6 linked regions of the Homo sapiens genome follow. The protein of the gene in region 2 interacts with the protein of the main gene of each other region in a biochemical or structural test. Each region holds a gene or a part of one and is shown on either strand. Other genes may lie near its edges.

What was found.
Region 1: the proteins of GBA1 (region 2) and TRIP12 form a complex in vitro, tested with the Homo sapiens proteins (one study listed by BioGRID).
Region 3: the proteins of GBA1 (region 2) and SNCA form a complex in vitro, tested with the Homo sapiens proteins (2 studies listed by BioGRID).
Region 4: the proteins of GBA1 (region 2) and OGT form a complex in vitro, tested with the Homo sapiens proteins (one large-scale study listed by BioGRID).
Region 5: of the proteins of GBA1 (region 2) and NEDD4, one has a biochemical effect on the other in vitro, tested with the Homo sapiens proteins (one large-scale study listed by BioGRID).
Region 6: the proteins of GBA1 (region 2) and POLI form a complex in vitro, tested with the Homo sapiens proteins (one large-scale study listed by BioGRID).

The regions. Positions count from the first base shown.
Region 1 is NC_000002.12:229,859,510-229,863,009, reverse strand, and holds part of TRIP12 (E3 ubiquitin-protein ligase TRIP12), read left to right. Parts: intron 1-2,478; coding exon 2,479-2,604; intron 2,605-3,435; coding exon 3,436-3,500. UniProt on the Homo sapiens protein: E3 ubiquitin-protein ligase involved in ubiquitin fusion degradation (UFD) pathway and regulation of DNA repair.
Region 2 is NC_000001.11:155,233,952-155,238,249, forward strand, and holds the end of GBA1 (lysosomal acid glucosylceramidase isoform 1 precursor), read right to left. Parts: coding exon 4,183-4,298; intron 3,628-4,182; coding exon 3,390-3,627; intron 2,519-3,389; coding exon 2,294-2,518; intron 1,894-2,293; coding exon 1,730-1,893; intron 1,361-1,729; coding exon 1,244-1,360; intron 1,150-1,243; coding exon 1,044-1,149; 3' UTR 501-1,043; downstream 1-500. UniProt on the Homo sapiens protein: Glucosylceramidase that catalyzes, within the lysosomal compartment, the hydrolysis of glucosylceramides/GlcCers (such as beta-D-glucosyl-(1<->1')-N-acylsphing-4-enine) into free ceramides (such as N-acylsphing-4-enine) and glucose.
Region 3 is NC_000004.12:89,820,162-89,823,661, reverse strand, and holds part of SNCA (alpha-synuclein), read left to right. Parts: intron 1-1,273; coding exon 1,274-1,416; intron 1,417-3,500. UniProt on the Homo sapiens protein: Neuronal protein that plays several roles in synaptic activity such as regulation of synaptic vesicle trafficking and subsequent neurotransmitter release.
Region 4 is NC_000023.11:71,550,104-71,553,603, forward strand, and holds part of OGT (UDP-N-acetylglucosamine--peptide N-acetylglucosaminyltransferase 110 kDa subunit), read left to right. Parts: intron 1-3,500. UniProt on the Homo sapiens protein: Catalyzes the transfer of a single N-acetylglucosamine from UDP-GlcNAc to a serine or threonine residue in cytoplasmic and nuclear proteins resulting in their modification with a beta-linked N-acetylglucosamine (O-GlcNAc).
Region 5 is NC_000015.10:55,857,613-55,861,112, reverse strand, and holds part of NEDD4 (E3 ubiquitin-protein ligase NEDD4), read left to right. Parts: intron 1-334; coding exon 335-452; intron 453-538; coding exon 539-706; intron 707-3,500. UniProt on the Homo sapiens protein: E3 ubiquitin-protein ligase which accepts ubiquitin from an E2 ubiquitin-conjugating enzyme in the form of a thioester and then directly transfers the ubiquitin to targeted substrates. Specifically ubiquitinates 'Lys-63' in target proteins.
Region 6 is NC_000018.10:54,279,517-54,283,016, forward strand, and holds part of POLI (DNA polymerase iota isoform a (long)), read left to right. Parts: intron 1-1,150; coding exon 1,151-1,387; intron 1,388-3,320; coding exon 3,321-3,499; intron 3,500-3,500. UniProt on the Homo sapiens protein: Error-prone DNA polymerase specifically involved in DNA repair. Plays an important role in translesion synthesis, where the normal high-fidelity DNA polymerases cannot proceed and DNA synthesis stalls. Favors Hoogsteen base-pairing in the active site.

The sequences.
Region 1 (3,500 bases), on a different chromosome or scaffold from region 2:
GACACATCCGCCTCTGTCTCCCAAAGTGCTGGGATTACAGGCATGAGCCACCGTGCCCTGCTGGGCATTGCTGAATTTAAGCCAGTTTTGTGAGCCTTGGTTTTCTAAATGATTTGAATACTGTTTACTTTTTGTGGTATAATATAGAGAGTTTACATGCTAAGTTCTTAAGTTCATTGAAGGTATTAGTAAGGGCATGAGAAATAACACAGGAGTAGAATTAGGTGGATCTAACATAAGCTATATAAAAGTCAACAGAACAATTTATTTGAGTTAAAAAGAGGAGGGCTGCTGCCCCAGACCTCACCTTTAGTTTCATATGGGCCGGTTTCTGATGACAAATGGAATGAATCATAATTTTTAATTGTTTTGGGCATTTATTTTTCACAAAGTTGTCTAGCTTTGAATGTATGTAGTTTTCTTTCAGAATGAGTTGTTTAATTATCAAGGAATGCAACAAGCTATATTTTAAATTTTAAAATGAAATAAAGTAGAAAACGTGATTTAATTAAAACATCAGTCTGCAACGATCTTTAAGAAAATAAGAATGTAGAGGACCTGAATGACATAATTTATATTTCCTGTAGCTGTTAAATTCCACACCCCAAAAACAGAACGTTACACCTCTTTTTTAGAATAACTATGGAATGATTTGAAAAATAGTCTCATTTCTGAAGAAAAAAGAGTTGAACTCTGAGATCTGTTAGTAGAAATATAACAAAAACAAAAGCAACTCTTAGAAATTAAATCTCTAATAAACTCATTGGTTAAAGCAAAATTTTAGTCTGCAATGGGAGAATATCTAGGAAAAATTAAAATTAAATCACAATATATACAAGGCAGGAAAATCACATGATCCTGGGAGGCGGAGGTTGCAGTGAGCCGAGATAGTGTCGCTGCACTCCAGCCTGGGCGATAGAGCAAAACCCTGTCTGAAACACCAAAAAATAAAAAATAACAACAACAACAACAAAAACACAATGTATAAAAAATCTTACAAAGTTCAGCTTAGCTACAACTTTAGAAAATATGCTTCTTGAAGTATATGTGTCCTTTCATTACTAAAAGTGAAGACTAATAACACTTGAAAGGCTCACCTAGAGTTTTGTTTTTTTGTTATTTTTTTTTAAGAAATTCATCTATTCTAATAAGTCTTTAGAACATATTATTACTTTCAGATTAGAACCTTAAAAACAAAAATGATATGAGGGATCCAGGAACTATTTCCTTTCTTAAGAAGCTAATTTCTTACCTTCTTTTAAGACTCTTTTCATGAATTCTGGAAAGATGGAAGAAGAAGTGATACAGAAAAGAGAAACCTTAGGTCCTCTTTTGGAACAGATGGTTGTACTTGTATGATATCTTAAGAAATTTATGGCATCCTTACAGATTGAGTTAGAATTATTTTGTGAGATTTTCAGTGACTCATTTCTAAGTTCTTTTGAGATGGTGTTTGGAATAAAAGCCTTAAACTTTTTTTTAACAAGTAAATTTGGTATTAATGAAACTTTTTTCTAGATTTTCATTGGTATATGCTCTTATGTGGAAAGTGGATATCAGCTATGAATTACATAAATTGCATTTGTTACATTAATATCTCACCCGAATGGCAGCAGTTTTCTGGATATCAACATGTGTTTGTTTTTTATTGCTTATGTAAATCTCATGTAACCATTCCCCAAGGTCTAAAAAATAATCTAACTGAAAACAGTTTTTTCATGTTCCTCAAACTTGCTTTTAGAATAGTGCTGGCATAAGGATTTGATTTATTGTAAATATGATGCACCATATCAATCATGGAATTATTTGAATGTTTTTTGGAACTTTTGTGGTAAATTCCATATTTCTCCAGGACTTTTTTGTGTTCTTTCTGTTGACAAGTACTTTAAAGTTTTAGCAAGTATCACTATGTTGATTTCATGTAGGTTTATTTATTGTTTAGTGCTTGAAATGATTTTCTGTGTAAAATCAGTTTGAGAATTGGTTCGTCTGTCTCTGCATTTGCTGTGTTTACCTGAATTTTAAGTACAAATTGGAAATCGGTATCAGTGTGGGAATCATCAATTGTCTTTTCCGTAAACTTTTAAAGCCATTACAGTCACATTATGTATTAAAAGTGTGTTTAGATCTAAAGTCTAAATTTGCTTTTTGTTAAAATGTAGCATATTTGAATATCTGCACTAAAATTGCTGAAAAATGTGTTACTGCTTAAGCAACCTTAACAACGCTGTGCAATTATGACTACTGGTGATAATAAACTCTTCGGTATTGCGGGGCGGGGGTGGTTCTGAGAGGCAATTTCTTTTTGCCAGATTATTTAGTAGAATAATAATTAAAATTTATAAATATTTGGAAAAAGGGTAGGGTCAACAATGAATTGTGGGAAGCTTTAAGAAATATATAAAAATATTTCATTTTCAGTATTGTATTTGCATCTCAGTTTCCTGATAGATTTCTGTTTTGATTTTCTGCTGACAGGTCACATTTAGGGCAGGCAAAACATAAGGGATATAGCCCTCCTGAGAGTAGAAAATCTAATTCTAAGGCACCCAAAGTGCAGTCTAATACTACTTCTGAACTGTCAAGGGGACACCTTTCTAAAAGGTAAATCTTCATGTTGCTTATACATTTTCAAGGCAGAATTATTTGCATTCAAATCATTGCATAATGTTAAAACTTGAGGTTATTCCAAAACGTTTTGATACATATTTTCATTATTCTCTAAGTAACTTTTAGGATTGACAGTTTATCACCTTTGCAGTGATTAGTGCAGTATACCCTAGACAGTGAGTTTGTCAATGATAAAATGATATTTTTGTTTGGAGAGCCGTAAGATTCCCCCTTTGCTTAACAAACCATTATGGCCATTTTTTATTTCTTTTTATTTTTTAATCTTTTTTTTAGTTTTTATTGTCAGAGCCATAGTTTAGGTTTAAGTCAGTGATTCTTAAGATTTAATTGTTAAGAGACTTTGGAAAGCAATGTTAACTTTGAAGATTTGATAGTACTACAATATAAAAATCTCTAACCTTCATTTTGAAAGTGCGTATGTTAATGCTTATTTCTTCTAAGCTTTGACAAAGCAGTTGTGCTTGTGAATAGGGCATCAATATTCTGGCTTCCTCTGGTTCCGAACAATTAAGTGTTGTTTTTCTTGTAATCTTAATTCTTGTTTTGTGATTACGAGTGTTAGTGTCAGTAATCTTTGGGCTAAAGAACACCCTTATCTTTTAATCAGATATTTTAGTATCCAAAGTCACATCTGCTTTTGTTTTGTTCTTTTATTTCGTTTTACAGATTTGAACCTTCTGAAAACCTATGTTTAATACTGGACTTAGTAGGAACATATTCATACTTTATTTTTTGAAAGCATTATATATGACAGTTGTAATTATGACAGGCTGATATTAACTGTTTTCTTATCTAACCTCTTAGAAGCTGCAGTTCATCATCTGCTGTGATAGTTCCACAACCAGAGGATCCAGACAGAGCCAATACTT
Region 2 (4,298 bases):
CGTGGGCTGCACAACCTCTGTGCCTATTGTACCCACATTCTCAGTCTCTACTTCCCCTGGGATGGAGGTAAGGGGCAGATGGGAGGGGCAGCCCTGGGGAGAGTGGGCAGGGATCCAAGAACTAGTTCTCCTAACACACCTTCCTTCCTTGACCCTCAGCTGAGGTACCACCGCAACGCCAGACACCAGCAGGCCCAGAGACTGAGGAGGAGCCATACCGGCGCCGGAACCAGATCCTATCTGTGCTGGCAGGACTGGCAGCCATGGTGGGCTACGCCTTGCTCAGCGGCATTGTCTCCATCCAGCGGGCAACGCCTGCTCGGGCCCCAGGCACCCGGACCCTGGGCATGGCTGAGGAGGATGAAGAGGAATGATTTGTCCTCACGCTCCCAAGACTGGTTTTTCTACTCTCATGCATTCCAGAGGCCCCCGTGCCTCCTCGTTGTTGGTACAGCCGGACACGGGGTGCTGCCACCCAGAATAAAGCCACTCACACTGACTGGGCTCAAACATTTTCTCCTTTAAGAGCTGCCATTTTTCCTGGCTGGTGCCATAGGAATCATCTGGGTGCCTGGGCACACCCGCTGCTGCTTTAAGGCTTCCGCCCTGATGCTGACACTGCTGCTCCACGGGCCCAGTTCTGCATCTCCAGGAAAGACAAACAGTCTCCAGTTTTGGGCCCAGCTTTCCTAGTCTCTTCTTTTCCTTACCCTCAGCCCTGATCTTGTGTTTGTACGGACAGTGAGCTCACCCTAGGCCTGGACCCAGGCCCAGTTTCCAAAGCAAGCAGCACACAGCGCATGTTCACATAAGCATGGGGGCTGGGGGGACACTGGGGCTTACTGATCTTTTTCTAGGGGCCTCCAGCCCCTGGCACCACCTAGAGGGGAAAGTGAGTCACCCAAACCATTGCCCCTGGGCTTACGTCGCTGTAAGCTCACACTGGCCCTGCTGTGCCCTCTTTAGTCACAGACAGCGTGTGAGCTGACTCTGTCCCTTTAATGCCCAGGCTGAGCCCAGTGCCTCCTTGAGTATCTGCTCCATCACTGGCGACGCCACAGGTAGGTGTGAATGGAGTAGCCAGGTGAGATTGTCTCCAGGAAGCCCACAGCAGGATCCTTGATGGTAAGAGGCACATCCTTAGAGGAGCTAGGGAGCAGGGAGGAGAAGCTGAGAGTGTGATCCTGCCAAGGCCCCCAACGCTGTCTTCAGCCCACTTCCCAGACCTCACCATTGCCCTCACCGGTTTAGCACGACCACAACAGCAGAGCCATCGGGATGCATCAGTGCCACTGCGTCCAGGTCGTTCTTCTGACTGGCAACCAGCCCCACTCTCTGGGAGCCCTCAGGAATGAACTTGCTGAATGTGGGAACAGATGGTCAGAGTCCCTCGGGGTACCTCCCATGAAACCCTCATCTAAGAAGTCACCCACCCACGGACCCACCCCATAACTCCTGCAGAGGCTCTGCCCTGGCTCTCTAGGCCTGGAGCCATGCTGCTGGGCACTGACCCTGCTTTTCTGCATCGCAGTCCAGCCTCAGGCATTGGGGTTTTCTGTTGCTACCTAGTCACTTCCTGCCTCCATGGTGCAAAAGGGGATGGGTGTGCCTCTTCCGAGGTTCCACCCTGAACACCTTCCTGCTCCCTCGTGGTGTAGAGTGATGTAAGCCATCCGATGTAGGAGATGATAGGCCTGGTATGGAATGGGGGTGCCCGCCCTCCACTCACCTGAAGTGGCCAAGGTGGTAGAACATGGGCTGTTTGTAAAACGTGTCCTTGGTGATGTCTACAATGATGGGACTGTCGACAAAGTTACGCACCCAATTGGGTCCTCCTTCGGGGTTCAGGGCAAGGTTCCAGTCGGTCCAGCCGACCACATGGTACAGGAGGTTCTAGGGTAAGGACAAAGGCAAAGAGACAAAGGCGCAACACTGGGGGTCCCCAGAGAGTGTAGGTAAGGGTCACATGTGGGAGAGGCAGCTGTGGGTAGGTCAGCCCTGTGAGGGGCACATTCCTTAGTAGCTAAGGAGTTGGGGGTGTGAAGATCCAGGCATCTCAAGGGGAGCTGAGAAGTCTGAGGCAGCTGCAAGTGCCTCAGTAGTTGCAAAAGGGGCAATGAGGTGTGCAGACCTGTGAAGGAAAGGGAAGATAGGGAATCATGGTTCCCCAGAGTTGCTCAAAAGGGCAGGCTAGCTGGGGAAAGCTGGACAGGAAGGGCTTCTGTCAGTCTTTGGTGAAACTAGTAAGAGGTCTGAGGTCTGCTTTGCAGGAAGGGAGACTGGGGTGGCTTACCGTGATGATGCTGTGGCTGTACTGCATCCCTCGATCCCAGGAGCCTAGCCGCACACTCTGCTCCCAGAACTTGGAGCCCACACAGGCCTCTGAGGCAAAGAGCATGGTGTTGGGGAACAGGCGGTGTGTCTCCCCTAGGGTGGCTTTGGCTGGAGCCAGAAAGTCCAGGTACCAATGTACAGCAATGCCATGAACATATTTAGCTGCTTCTGGGTCTGTCAGTACCTGCAAAGGAAGAGCAACTGATCCTGGACCTTGCACACAGGCTTCTGGAACTTCTAGTTCCTGTTGTAGGAATCCTGGAGTTGGGTGACGGGAAGAATGCAACTAGAGAGGTTTGGGGAGATTTTTTTTTGTTTTTGAGACAGGATGTCACTCTGTCACTCGGGCTGGAGTACAGTGGCGCAATCACGACTCACTGCAGCCTTGACTTCCTAGGGTCAACTGATCCTCCCACATTAGCCTCCTGAGTAGCTGGGACTACACGGGTGCCACACCCAGCTAATTTGTGTGTGTATGTGTGTGTATGTATGTGTGTGTGTGTATATATATATACATATAAACACATATATATGTATATACACATACATACATGAACCACCACCCCCAGCCTAGATAGTTTTGTTTTGTTTTGTTTCGAGATGGAGTCTCGCTCAGCCTCCCAGGCTGGAGTGCAGTGGCGCGATCTCGGCTCACCGCAACCACCATCTCCCGGGTTCAACTGATTCTCCCTTCTCAGCCTCCTGAGTAGCTGGGATTACAGACACCCACCATCATGCCCAGATAATTTTTTTTTTTTGTATTTTAGTAGACACAGGGTTTCAACACGTTGGCCAGGGTGGTCTTAAACTCCTGACCTCAGGTGATCACCCGCCTCGGCTTCCCAAAGTGCTGGGTTTGCATGAGTGAGCCACCTCGCCCAGCCCCTAGAAAGGTTTCAAGCGACAACTGTGGGATCCATGGCACCCTGGAGGTCCAGGGGAATGGTGCTCTAGGAATCCATAGTTGGGTAGAGAAATCGCTCTAAGTTTGGGAGCCAGTCATTTGGATGCTGGATTTGAAGGTCACTGGAGCACCATGGAGGTCCAGGCCTTACCACCTTTGCCCAGTGGGGCAGCAGCAAGCGTTGGTCATCCAGCATGAGTAGGCGGACATTGTGGTGAGTACTGTTGGCGAGGGTAGGACCTAGGTCACGGGCAATGAAGTCTCGCTGATGTTCAGGGGTGAAGCCCAGGCACTGGAAGGGGTATCCACTCAACAGCCCAGCAGAAGGCTCATTTTCAGCTGTCACTGCCCAGAACTGTAACTTGTGCTCAGCATAGGCATCCAGGAACCTGGCAAGAGAAAGGTCATGAATGATCCGGCCAAGAAAGTGGACCAGACCAGCTGGGTGTGGTGGCTCACACCTGTAATCCCAGCACTTTGGGAAGCCGAGGCAGGTGGATCACTTGAGTTCAGGAGTTCGAGAACAGCCTGGCGAAACCCCGTCTCTACTAAAAATAGAAAAATCAGCTGGGCCTGGTGGCAGGCGCCTATAATCCCAGCTACTTGGAAGGCTGAGGCAGGAGAATTGCTTGAACTCAGGAGGCAGAGGTTACAGTGAGTGAAGATGGCGCCACAGCACTCCAGCCTGGGTGACAGAGAGAGAGACTCCTTCTCAAAAAAAAAAAAAAGAAGAAAAATAAAAAGAAAGTGGGCCAGACCGAGAGAACAGGAAGCCTGATGGAGTGGGCAAGATTGACAGGCCCAAGGCTGAAAGGCCCAGAAGGTAGAAAGGTGAGCTGAGGACAGGCAGATCTGGAAGTGGAACTAGGTTGAGGGTTGGGACACAGATCAGCATGGCTAAATGGGAGGCCAGTCCTGATCCCACATCCTTGCTGATCCCTTACTTCACAAAGTATCTGGCCCAGGTCTGGTGGTAGATGTCTCCGGGCTGTCCCTTGAGTGACCCCTTCCCATTCACCGCTCCATTGGTCTTGAGCCAAGTGGGTGATGTCCAGGGGCT
Region 3 (3,500 bases), on a different chromosome or scaffold from region 2:
AAGAAAATGTGCCTTCATTTCCTTAGATGAGTGTCCCCATCCTCCACTCTCCTCCACTGTTCTCCTCTCTGCTTCTATGATATCAACTTTTCTTTTTCTTTAGATTCCACATGAGTGAGATCATGTGGTTGTTTGCCTTTCTGTTTCTGGCTTATTTAACTGAACAAGAAAGTTTTTGACATGAAATTAAACTTCTGCTTGTAAACTCAATTCAAACTATTTACACTGTCTTCTCAAAAATGTTAACTTATTTTAATAAATCTACTGAATGACCGTATCTCATTTTGTTTTATGAAAAGAAATTGTAAGGGTGCTCAATAGCCTCTTCATTTTCATACTGTCTAGCTCCTGTGCTCCTATTAAAATTACTGCAAATTTAGCTTTTTAAGAACCCTTTGTTTCACTACCTGAAGTTCTATAAAAAGATCCAAGTTCCTTCACAACCGTTTCTTATGCTGTTATTCGTACATATGTGATAATACCACGTCTGAACACGTAGATAATAAGTAGGGGCTGGGTGCGGTGGATCATGCCTATAATCCTAGCACTTTGGGAGGCTAAGGCGGGTGGATCACCTGAGGTTAGGAGTTCGAGACCGGCCTGGCCAACATGATGAAACCCTGTTTCTACTAAAAATACAAATAATAATAATAATAATAATTAGCCAGGTGTGGTTGTGGGCACCTGTAATCCCAGCTACTCGGGAGACTGAGGCAGGAGAATAGCTTGAACTCAGGAGGCGGAGGTTGCTGTGAGCTGAGATTGTGCCATTGCATTCCAGCCTGAACAACAAGAATGAAACTCCATCTCAAATAAATAAATAAATAGAAGTATGTATTGTGTTGCTTAGAAGGTGTGGTGGAAATTAACTTGCTGAGTGAGATCAAAGGATTGGCACTGAATTGAAATAAAGAAATATTCATGCTGAGTCTGGTTCAAATATAACTGCACCTGTAAGAATTGCTTTCTGTAAACTTTCCATAGTATAAACCAAATCCAAATCACTCATGGCTTTACATTCCTGATCGTTAAACTTGAAGCACTTTTTAATACTGCATGACTTTAGCCAAAATATCTTAGCCAAGATTCAATGTTTGGTTGAACCACACTCACTTGGACATCTTGGTGGCTTTTGTTTCTTCTGACCACTCAGTTATCTATGGCATGTGTAGATACAGGTGTATGGAAGCCGATGGCTAGTGGAAGTGGAATGATTTTAAGTCACTGTTATTCTACCACCCTTTAATCTGTTGTTGCTCTTTATTTGTACCAGTGGCTGAGAAGACCAAAGAGCAAGTGACAAATGTTGGAGGAGCAGTGGTGACGGGTGTGACAGCAGTAGCCCAGAAGACAGTGGAGGGAGCAGGGAGCATTGCAGCAGCCACTGGCTTTGTCAAAAAGGACCAGTTGGGCAAGGTATGGCTGTGTACGTTTTGTGTTACATTTATAAGCTGGTGAGATTACGGTTCATTTTCATGTGAGGCCTGGAGGCAGGAGCAAGATACTTACTGTGGGGAACGGCTACCTGACCCTCCCCTTGTGAAAAAGTGCTACCTTTATATTGGTCTTGCTTGTTTCAGGCATTAACCCAGATAAATGCCATGCAAATTTTATAATTATTATGATTGTTTCAATTTCTGGAAGAAAGTTAATGAAACAAAAAATGTAGTAAAATGCCAAAGGAACAGTGACATTTCAGAAAGAATGAGGGCTTTCATGTTAATTGTAAGTCTTGGAATTTCTCTTCCTTGGAGTAACAAATCCCTTTGTGCCTAATTTCCTAATTTCCAAAATAAAGTTCTTTTACTTATTTCTTTATAGTGACATCATCTCTTATTAAATGGCATATCTGCATATTACATAACAGTTCATTGCCAAATACATATTTGTGGGAAATGAGAGACTTAAAATACATACCAACCAGAGATATAGTTTTGAGGTAGATTTTAAAATTCTGAGAAGAATTTTGACTGAATTTTTTTGACAAACATGGGACACGAATAAGATTATACCAAAGATATTATAACTTTCATTTTAAATATGGAACTAATACAGTATGAGGTGTCAACAACGTTGAAGTTTCACAAACATCACCACTACAACAGCAAAATAATTTTTGCTTTTTCCCTGCCACAATGACCTCCTTGCTATTTCTTGAATAAATCAAGCATACCCTTGCCCTGACACGTTCTTGGGGAGGCCTGCCCTAATCTATATAAAATTGGAGCCATTCTTCTCACCTCTGGTATTCCCAGTCTCCCTACTTTTTTTCCTTCTTTCTTTCTTTTTCTTTTTCTTTCTTTCTTTCCTTCTTTCTCTCTTTCCTTTCTTTCTTTTCCCTTCCTTCCTTCCTTTCTCCCTTCCTTCCTTCCTCCCTCTCTCCCTCCCTTCCTTCCTCCCTTTCTTTCTTTCTCTTTTTTCTTTCTTGCTTCCTTCCTTCCTTCTTTCCTTTTCTTTCTTTTTCCTTTCTTTGCCAAAGTGTTATTCACCTTTAAATATAATACATAATGTGCTTACTTTAATGTATGATTTTTATTTTATTTCTCCCTTCTAGAATGTAGGCACCATGAGAGTGAAATATATTTATTTTGTTCATTGATATTTCACAAGTGTCTGGGAGAGTTTCCAACTTACAGTAGACAATTAACAAACATTTATTAAATTAAGGAGGGAAGGAAGTGAGTAAGCACAACAACTTTCATTTCTGGGTCTTTTATAATCATATGCTTAGTATAAGAACAGTGCTATTCAGCTATCCAAAAGTTACAATCAAAATGATTTTGGATGAATATCTTGAAAATTGTGAGAAAGAAGTTTTATTTGCTGGCAAACTATTCTGGGTTGTTTCCACTTCATGTAATCCTAAGTAGCAGCCTTACCTTGATAGCCCATTAAAACTCTGATAATAAAAAGGCAGAACAAAAATATCTGTGATATATTTAGATTTACTACATGTACTTACATGTCTAGTGTCTGGTGCAATGGATGCTAATGATGGCAAATCCTTACTGGGCTTCTAGTGAAGTTCTTCAGCTAATGTTTGAATGCATGGTTGGTCATGGTGGTACCCCTTTGTACAAAATATGCTTTTCAAATAATCTTATTAGGGATAATAATTATATTAATTCCTGGTTTCCATCTAAAATTTTAATTCTATTTATAGCTTCGTAAGATTTCACAAGTTAAGAGGGACCTCAGATTAAATTAGTACACAGGCAATTAATCAGTTTTGTGTCTCCGACCCTTTTCACGGGCTAATAGAAGCTATAGACCCTCTTAGCTTCAGAAAAATGCGCACTCACATACGCACATCAAAGAGCTTAATGGGAAGTCCATTGACAGACCCTCTGTTCAGATCAATCTTCTGATTGTAGAGATGAGGAAACAGAAATCTACAGAGGAAGTGGGTAGTCCAAGATTGCACAGTCATTTGGAATAGACTGGACACCAGTAGTACTTTTCCAGCCACTATATCACTTCCCCAAGCACTTCCTCAAAAC
Region 4 (3,500 bases), on a different chromosome or scaffold from region 2:
ATTAATTTGGAAAACTGGTTAAAAAGAGAAGAATAAAGTTTTTGAGGAACCTCTATACTAGTTCCCAAAATGGCTGTGCCAATTTATACTTCCCCCATCAGTTACAAGGCTTCCCTTTCTTTACATCCTCACTAACACTTGTTATTATTCGTCCTTTTGATGATAGCTATACTAACAAGTGTGAGATGCTAACTCATGGTTTTATTTTGCATTTCCTTGATGATTAGTGATGTTGAGCATATTTTTTATATATCTGCTTGCCATTTGTTTTTTTTGTTTTGTTTTGTTTTGTTTTTTTGAGATGAGGTCCTGCTCTGTTGCCCAGGCTGGAGTGCAGTGGCGCCATAATAGCTCACTGCAACCTCGAACTCCTGGGCTCAAGTGATCCTCCCACCTTGGTCTCCCCAAGTGATAGGATTACAGACATGAGCCACTGTGTCTGGCCTGTACCTCTTCTTTTGAGAAATGTCTGTTTAGATCCTTTGCCCGTATTTTAATGGGCGTATTTGCTACTGAGTTGAGCTTCTTAACCCTTTATCAGTTGTATAGTTTGCAAATGCTTTCTCCTAATCCGGGGTTGCCTATTCACTCTGTGTAATTGTTTCCTTTACTGTGCAGAAGCTTTTTAGTTTGATGCAATCTCATTGCATATTTTTGCTTTTGTTATCTGTGCTTTATGCTAAGTGAAATAAACCAGGCACAGAAAGTAGATACTGTATTATGTCACCTATTTGTGGAATCTAAAAAAGTTGATTTCATAGAAACAGAGAGTAGAAGGGTGGTGAGGCTTGGGGGGGTGGAGGAGGGATGGGGAAAAGGGAGATATTGATCAAAGTTTCAGTTAGACTGGAGGAATAAGTTTTAGTGATCTGTAGTACTGCATGGTGACCACAGTTGTTAATAATGTATATTTCAAAATTGCAAAAAGAATAGGTTTTTAATGTCCTCAACCACAAAAAAATAAGTTAGTGAGGTGATGGCTATGTTAATTAGCTTGGTTGACTCTTTCTAAAATGTATACGTGGATCAAACCATCACATTGTATGCCATAAATATACACAATTATATATCAACTTTAAATTTAAAAATTAAAAGAATAAAGCATATGTCTTCCCTCTCCTGTATGAACTAGACCATAGAGTAACCCAATAGTTGATGGGGGAAGCTTTTCTTTATAAAAGCATTCTAGCTAATAAGTGAAGAAGGAATGATAGAATATCACCATTAATAGTGAAAGCATTTATTAGGCCGGGCTTGGTGGCTCACGCCTGTAATCCCAGCACTTCGGGAGGCCATGGCAGGTGGATCACCTGAGGTCAGGAGTTCGAGACCAGCCTGGCCAACATGGCAAAACCCCATCTCTACTAAAAATACAAAAATTAGCCAGGCATGGTAGCAGGAGCCTGTAATCCCAGCTACTCAGGAGGCGGAGGCAGGAGAATCTCTTGAACCTGGGAGGTGGAGGTTGCAGTGAGCTGAGATTGCACCATTGCATTCCAGCCTGGGCGACAGAGCAAGACTCCATCTCAAAAAATAAAAAAAAAGTTAAAGCATTTATCAGTGACAAAAACGAGATACAATCAGGTATTAAGTACCTTGTGGTAAACAATTTCACCAGTGAAGTAGTCTTGCACAAAGAGAAAAGAACACAAACCTAATTAAGCTTCTGGTTCTACCTACCAATTTACAGGAGATATACACGGGACAGGAAACATGTTAAAGGACACCATAGGGATGCAGTCAGCAAAATTCAAACTTTGGGAAGCTGACCTTCTTACTTCAACAAATTGTAATAAAAATGGAGATTTAAATTAAACTTTTAGGCCGGGTGCGGTAGCTCACCCCTGTAATCTCAGCACTTTGGGAGGCTGAGGCGAGTGGATCACTTGAGGTCAGGAGTTCGAGACCAGCCTGGCCAACATGGTGCAACCCCATCTCTACTCAAAATACAAAAGAAAAAAAAAACAGCTGGGTGCGGTGCGGTGGCGTGTGCCTGTAATCCCAGCTACTTAGGAGGCTGAGGCAGGAGAATTGCCTGAACCCGGGAGGAGGAGGAGGTTGCGGTGAGCCAAGATCGTGCCACTGCACTCCAGCCTGGGCGACAGAGTGAGTGACACTCCGTCTCCAAAAATAAATAATGAGTGACACTCCGTCTCCAAAAATAAATAAATAAACACACAAACTTTTAAAGGATTAAAAGAAACTCAGAGAGGCACATTGACAAATTATATCTGTCTTATTTGGATCCTGACTCAGTTAATGAGAAATTGGAGCACTGAATGGATTTTTTTTTTTTTTTTTTTGAGACAGGGTCTCACTTGATCGCCCAGGCTGAAGTGCAGTGGTGTGATCTTGGCTCACTGCAACCTTCACCTCCCAGGCTCAAGGGATTCACTTGCCTCAGCCTCCGGAGTAGGTGGGACTACAGGCGTGCGCCATCATGCCCGGCTAGCTTTTTGTATTTTTAGTGGAGACAGGGCTTTGCCATGTTCCCAGGTCTTGAACTCCTGAGCTCAGGCAGTCTGCCTGCCTCGGCCTCTCAAAGTGCTAGGATTACAGGCATGAGCCACCACGCCCAGCTGATATTTAATATGAAGGAATTGCTGTCTTTTTTTTTTTTTTTTCTGTTAGGTATGATAATGGTATTGTGGTTAGGTTGGGAGGAAAAAGCATTCTTGTGTTGTCCCTGAGATACATATTGAAGTATTTTTGAATGGAATATGTCTGGGCTTTGCTTCAAAATGATCTGCGAAGAGGGGGAGTAAGTTGGAGTATAGATTAAATAAGATCAAACATGATATATGAATTGTTGAAAATGGATAATGGAGACTTGGACGTAATGTTCCTCTGCTTTTGTATATGTTTAAACATTTCTATTATAAAGTTTAAAAGTTCTTGGGGTGGACATCTATCACTATAGACAATCTAAATTAAATGCATCATGCCGTGTTTACTACAGAGTTGTCATCTAAGTGAAGATGAAGTGTTCTTTCTTTATTTTTTTTTGAGACAGAGTCTCGCTCTGTCGCCCAGGCTGGAGTGCAGTGGCACGATCTCAGCTCACTGCAGCTTCCGCCTCCCAGGTTCAAGCAATTCTCCTGCCTCGGCCTCCTGAGTAGCTGGGATTACAGGCGTGAGCCACCATGCCCGGCTAATTTTTTGTATTTTTTAGTAGAGACGGGGTTTCGCCATGTTGGCCAGGGTGGTCTTGAACTCCGGGCCTCAAGTGATCTGCCCGCCTTGGCCTCCCAAAGTGCTGGGATTACAGGCATGAGCCACCGCGCCCAGCAGATGAAGTGTTCTTTATCAGTCTTTAATAAACATACAATTACTCAGTGTCTTAATCAAATACCTTTTCGGTGTGTGTGTTTTTTTTTGTTTTTGTTTTTTGTTTTTGGAGACACAGTCTTGCTCTGTTGCCCAGGCTGGAGTGCAGTGGCGCAATCTTGGCTCACTGTAACCTCTGCCTCTCGGGTTCAAGCCATTCTCATGCCTCAGCC
Region 5 (3,500 bases), on a different chromosome or scaffold from region 2:
AATAATCTATGAAGCGCTCTGATATTTATTCATTCAACAAATATTTTTGAGTACCTATATGTGTTGGACATTATCCTAGACATAGTGACAAACTAAAATATCAAATCAGACATGTTATACCTTTTCACAAAACCTTAAACTCCGTAAGGTACTCTAAATATACCAGTCTGCCTACCCATGATTGAATCTTTGCATGTTGAAATAGCCTTTGGTCAAAGACAATAAATTTTTTTATTGATGTAATGTAGATTTTTTTCCCAATGATCACAGAATCTTTGACAATCATTTTAACTACTTAAGACATGGATGATGGCTTTTTATACTTCCAATATAGGGACAACCTAACAGATGCTGAGAATGGCAACATTCAACTGCAAGCACAACGTGCATTTACCACCAGGCGGCAGATATCCGAGGAAACAGAAAGTGTTGACAACCGAGAGTCTTCCGAGGTATAAGTAGTTTCCTAGTTCTCCTTGAAAGACACATGCTATAGCAATAAAGTATGTGTGGCTCAAGCTTATTCTGTTCATTTTAGAACTGGGAAATTATAAGAGAAGATGAAGCCACCATGTATAGCAACCAGGCCTTCCCATCACCTCCACCGTCAAGTAACTTGGATGTTCCAACTCATCTTGCAGAAGAATTGAATGCCAGACTCACCATTTTTGGAAATTCAGCCGTGAGCCAGCCAGCATCGAGCTCAGTAAGATGCTCTTAGATTTTGTTACGGCTTCAGTAGTTTATATTATGCATATTATACTATTCAACAACTAACTTTTATGTAAAATTTTGTCTTAAATGCAATAATATGTAATAATACATTAGGGACCTTGGGACTTTACAACATGGTCATTTTTCAAATATCCTCATTAGTAGTATGGACCAGAGTCATGGCATCCAAATTTCCATTATGTCAGTGCCCTCCAGTCAAAAATCACTAGGGACACATTTGTCATTGAACAAGTTGGGTTTATTATTCATTTCAGCAAGGGAGAACACGCACCATTGGTGTTTTGGTAGCAGAATGTTAGAAAAGACTTCAGGGATTTGGGCTCCTGTTAGGTGATTTTGAAGAGGGTTTTAGGAAGCAGGACTTTGCTCTACATGAGATGCTGTTGGGAAGCAGGGATAATTCTATGATTTTGTATCTCAAATCTTATCTGTAGTGAGGCTAAAGCTATGATTAGCAAAGTAGAACAGTCACTCACATTTGCCAGGATGGGGAAATGTTTGGTATTTTGTGGCTTGGACAATGTTCATGTTTTGTCTATATTCAGCCACGATTACAGAGTGGTCTTGATTTTGTCTTGATCTTACCTATGAGTGCCAGGCCAGCTCTTGGATGTTAGGGACTGCTTTTCTCTCTCCCAGTTATGCTGAAGTTGGTTTTTTGTTTGCTTGTTTGTTTGTTTGTTTTGAGACATCTCACTCTGTCACCTAGACTGGAGTGCAGTGGTGCTATCTCGGCTTACTGCAAACTCCGTCTCCAGCTTCAGGCGATTCTCATGCCTCAGCCTCCTGAATAGCTGAGATTACAGGCGCACACCACCACGCCCAGCTAATTTTTGTATTTTTAGTAGAGATGGAGGAGTTTCACCCTGTTGGCCAGGCTAGTCTTGAACTCCTGGCCTCAAGTGATCCACCTGCCTCAGACTCCCAAAGTGCTGGGATTACAGGCATGAGCCACTGCTTCTGGCCTGAAGTTTTAACATTATATCACAGATGTCACCAACAGGTATATATGAATAAGAACTGATATACTTTGACTAAACAAGGAGATAGATGACATTTTCACTTCAGCCACCACTGTAAAAACTGTTGTCCATAGGGTTCAGAATAAAGTATCCCAGCATATGCTTCCACGATGAGAACTTCATAGCTAGCTGTCTAATATGTATCATCAAGGGAGATTGAGTAGAAGACAAAGATTATTCTCTGAGGATGCTATTTGTCATTTCCAGTTGAGGTTTCCCTGCCTTTCATTTAGTTAGTAAATATTTAATGAGAGCTGATCACATATATGCAGAGTACTATATGCTAGTTACTGAGGATACATCAGTCAATAAAATTAACAATATCTCCTGCCTTCATGGGACTTACATTCTAGTGCAGAGGAAAGCAAACTACAACCGGTGGGCCAAATCAGCAGCTGCCTGTTATGAATAATTACCATTGGAATACAGCCACATCATTTGTTTTGGTATTGCCCATCTCTGCTTTCACACGACATCATCTGAATAAAGTAGTTACAGCAGCAACCATATGGCCCACAGCCAGTATTTACTGTCTGGATCTTAACAGGAAATGTGTGCTAACCTCTGCTCTAGCATCTTCTTCAAGAAGCTTCACAGTAGATAGTTGTACGTGAATATGAATATCTGCCAGTAAATCCGCCTGCCTGCCTCCTGCCCTTCCTTTCTTCCATTTGTCTGTTCTGTCTTCCATTCATTTCATTTTTTCACAGGGGAGTGGGACAGGTCAGTCAAAGACCTAAACTACATTAGGCCAGGCGTGGTGGCTCACGCCTGTAATCCCAGCACTTTGGGAGGCTGGGATTATAGATGGGTTGAAGTCAGGAGTTCAAGACCAGCCTGGGCAACATGGCGAAACCTTGTCACTACTAAAAATACAAAAATTAGCTCGGTGTGGTGGTGCACACCTGTAATCCCAGCTACTTGGGAGGCTGAGATTGGAAGAATGGCTTGAACCCAAGAGGCAGAGGTTGCAGTGAGCCGAGATTGCACCATTGCACTTCAGCTTGGGTGACAGAGTGAAACTCCGTCTCAAGAAAAAAAAAAGAATAAACCATATTGATTTGCTGATGATAAATCACATACGATCCCATTCCCCTTCTTCCTGGTATTTTTTTTACTTAAAGTAATACATGGCAACCATATAGTGTAATACTATGCAGCCATTGAAGAGAACAAGGTGGGCTCGAGTGTATATGTTGGATGGAACAATCCCTAAGAGATGCTGGTAAATGAAAAACAGCAAGGTACAGAACAGTGTGTTTGTTACACCAGAATTTATGTAAATTATTTAAATGCAGAGCATAAATATGTGTATAATTTACTCGAGGACTAAACAGGAAACTAATAACTTTGCTTGCCTCTGAAGAGAGGCAAAGAATGAGCAGGATATATATTGTTTGTACCTTTTGTTTTTTTGAGATAGGGTCTCACTCTGTCGCCCAGGCTGGAGTGCAGTAGCATGATCATAGCCCACTGCAACCTCAAATTTCTGGGCTCAAGGGATTCTCCCACCTCAGCCTCTGGAGTAGCTGGTACTACAGGCACATGCCATTGTACCCCTGCTAATTTTTTTAAAAAATTTTTGTAAAGACTTGGTATAGTATTGTTTCCCAGGCTCCTTTTGAATTTTATAACATGTATGAGTGTTACCTATTTTAAAAAATATTTTTAAAGCACTGTATGGTTATGGTTACAAATTGAGATTGTATTTAGGTATATAAAATAAAATTTAAGACTGGGCAT
Region 6 (3,500 bases), on a different chromosome or scaffold from region 2:
ATAGGCATGAGCCACTACTCCTGGCCCATTATGTCCTTTCTTGTAGATAAACCAGTTGTTATCGTTTTGCCACATTTGCTTTCTCTTGTTCTCTCTATGGATTGCTTGGTTGGTTGATGAGCTATTTGGAAGTAAATTGCAGACATCCTGACATTTCATCTCTAAATACTTTTAGCGTTAGTCTCTTTGAGGTTAGGATGGTTTCATGTCATTCCAACACTGTTTTACACCTAAAGCAAATTTATTTTTATATAATTTTCTTACACTTTTCATAAAAGAGCTCTAAAACTGTGTACAGGTCAGAGATTGTTTCTAGCAGCATATACTGCTAGTGCGTGGTTAAGATTTAGATCTTTAAAGTATAATGTTAGCTTTCTTGTTATATAATAATACTTCTATGCCTACTTACGGGTAAATATGAGTAAAAGTTTTGCCAATGTCAGTAGGAATTTTTTTATGAGATCAGTTTTCACAATGTGTTAATTATTAAGCACTCCCACTACACAGTCACTATCACAGGCCCTTGGAATTTGCTTATTGAATTTGTTTACAGTATTCCTATGAAGCATGAAAGAGATTAGTCAAGTGGATAACAGGGTGGCAGTGATCTCTTAGTCCATTTAGTGTTGCTTTAACAGAATACCTGAGACTGGGTAATTTATAAAGAAAAAAAGGTTTATTTGGTTCATGATTCTTGTGGCTGGAAAAGTCAAGGTTAGGCCTCTGGTGAGGGCCTCAGGCTGTTTCCACTCATGGTGGAAGGCAAAAGGGAGCCAGTGTGTGCAGAGATCACATGGTGAGAGAGGAAGCAAGGGCTGGGGGAGGTGCCAGGCTCTTTTAACAACCAGCTGTCTTTGGAACTAATACAGTCAGAAACTTACCCCTGAGGGAGGGCTTTAATCTATTCATGAGGGATCCACCCCTGTGATCCCAACACCTCCCATTTGACCCCACCTCCAACACTGGGGATCAAATTACAACATGAGGTTTGGAGGGGACAAATATCACAACCATACCAGGTGATGATGGTGGTGGTTGTGGTGGTGGTGGTTGTTGGATATAGACTAAGCCCTCTACCTTTTAAAAATTATTTTGTGAAAAAGAAAAAGGTTTTTCTTGTGACTTTGAATGACATTTGTTGTTTTTAAAGCTATAAACCTGCTTGACGTCTTGCACATCAGACTACTTGTTGGATCTCAGATTGCAGCAGAGATGCGGGAAGCCATGTATAATCAGTTGGGGCTCACTGGCTGTGCTGGAGTGGCTTCTAATAAACTGTTGGCAAAATTAGTTTCTGGTGTCTTTAAACCAAATCAACAAACAGTCTTATTACCTGAAAGTTGTCAACATCTTATTCATAGTTTGAATCACATAAAGGAAATACCTGGTAAGACAAATATATTTGAAAAGTACATATACGTCTTATTTTATTTCTTTTAATTTAAAAAATTATAGATACAATGTAATTAATTCTTAGGTAGAGTTGTCTGTGAGTTTGTGTGCATGTGTGTGTGTGTGTATACTTGGTTCCTGGAAAAAACTAAGAAAAACTGTAATGTTTTCTCAAGCAAATTTGGATTAAGAAATATGTGAAGGTACTTTTCTTATTTTATCTACTTTTGTATGGTTAGAATATGGTCATGAAAGTTATAGCCTAGAAACATATGGTCCTTTATTTCCAGTCCCTGGGTCATACTCTTATACTGTACATTGCCTCTAGAGAGGGGAGTTCGTCTTTTACTAACTCTTTTGGGATTACATATAAAATATTAAGGCTACAATGGACTTTCCAAAACATCTAGGCCAAGGTCCTCATTTTAAAGATTAGGAAACTGATTTCCATGAGGAGTTCGGTGACCTATTTAGGTCATGGGGCAAGTTTGTATCTTTGAAGATTAAATACCCAAGTTTTTATAGGCCATCAATATGTTGAACTACATTTCTGTGGTATTGCTAGGGAATAAGATGTTATAAAAGAGTTCTGTGGAAGTGAATTTCTAATACCACTGAAACTTAGATGTCATACTTCACATTTTTAACTGATACTTGCGTGATTCCAAAATGTATTATACACTGCCTTGCCTTCCTTAGTATAGTATAACTATAATTTGAAGTTTTTTGGATGACTTTGGTAGTGCATTCTGAAGAACAATGTCAGGTTGTAATAAACTGAGGACTATATACTGGTGCAAAACATTCTTACTTGGCTTTACTTTCGAGTTCTTGTATCTTTTTTTTTTTTTTTTAACAGGCTTTCTCCTTTCTCACTTATTGCCAAATTGCCAACCTTCTTTTTTTTCTGCTGTGAAAAATCTGTCACTCTACTTTAATAGTTCCCCCTACATAGCCATCTCCTCCAACTTACTGCTTTTACTGTGCAAGAAAACCAGATAACTGTGGAATTACTGTTTTTGAATGAAAAGAATAAGGAGACATTAAATAGCCTGTTTTCTCTTGTGAATAAAGTATGACCGAATTTTAGTGCAAGAACTTTGTGACAGTTTTGCTAGCAAGATTTTTTGTTTGTTTGCTTTCTGGCTCATAGTTGTATTCTGGATGGTAAATGTTAGATATGACTTATGGATAAATGTGTGGTGGTGCGTATAGGAATCAGTTAGGTTACCTAATATGTACACTTAATTTATTTTAATTGCTCTAGTGGCAGCCTTTTTGTATATTAATAATAATCATGATTTCTGAATATTTCTGGAATATTACATAACAGGTGGTAAAATTTTTGTTTTAGTAAGACAGCATTTATTGGCTGTCTCTGTATTCATTTTATTTTACTGCATTTTGTGAGGACTTCAAAGAGGTGCATATAATTCAGGAGCCCTGAGTGGAAGAACAGCAACCTAGTTTGCAATGGGGTTTGATCTTTGCAAAATACAGTAGTCCCCCATTATCTGCAGTTTCACTTTTCACAGTTTCTATTACCTGCAGTCAACTGTGGTCTGAAAATAATAAGATATTTTGAGAGAGAGAGGCAGAGACCACATTCACATAACTTGTATATTGTATATTGTTATAGTTCTGTTTTATTATTATTGTTAATCTCTTACTGTGCCTAATTTATAAATTAAACTTTATCATAGGTATATATGTAATGGGAAAAACAGTACTGTATATATAGGGTTTGATACTGTCCATGGTTTCAGGCATCCACTGAAGGTCTTAGAATGTATCCCCTGTGGATAAGGGGGGACTACTGTATAAATTATAGAACTTAAAGATAAGATTGATATATTTATAATATTTTAATTAGCTTTGTTTTAAGGAGAAAAGCTATTTTAACATTGTATGCATTTCTTTTTATTTAGGTATTGGCTATAAAACTGCCAAATGTCTTGAAGCACTGGGTATCAATAGTGTGCGTGATCTCCAAACCTTTTCACCCAAAATTTTAGAAAAAGAATTAGGAATTTCAGTTGCTCAGCGTATCCAAAAGCTCAGTTTTGGAGAGGATAACTCCCCTGTGATACTCTCAGGACCACCTCAGG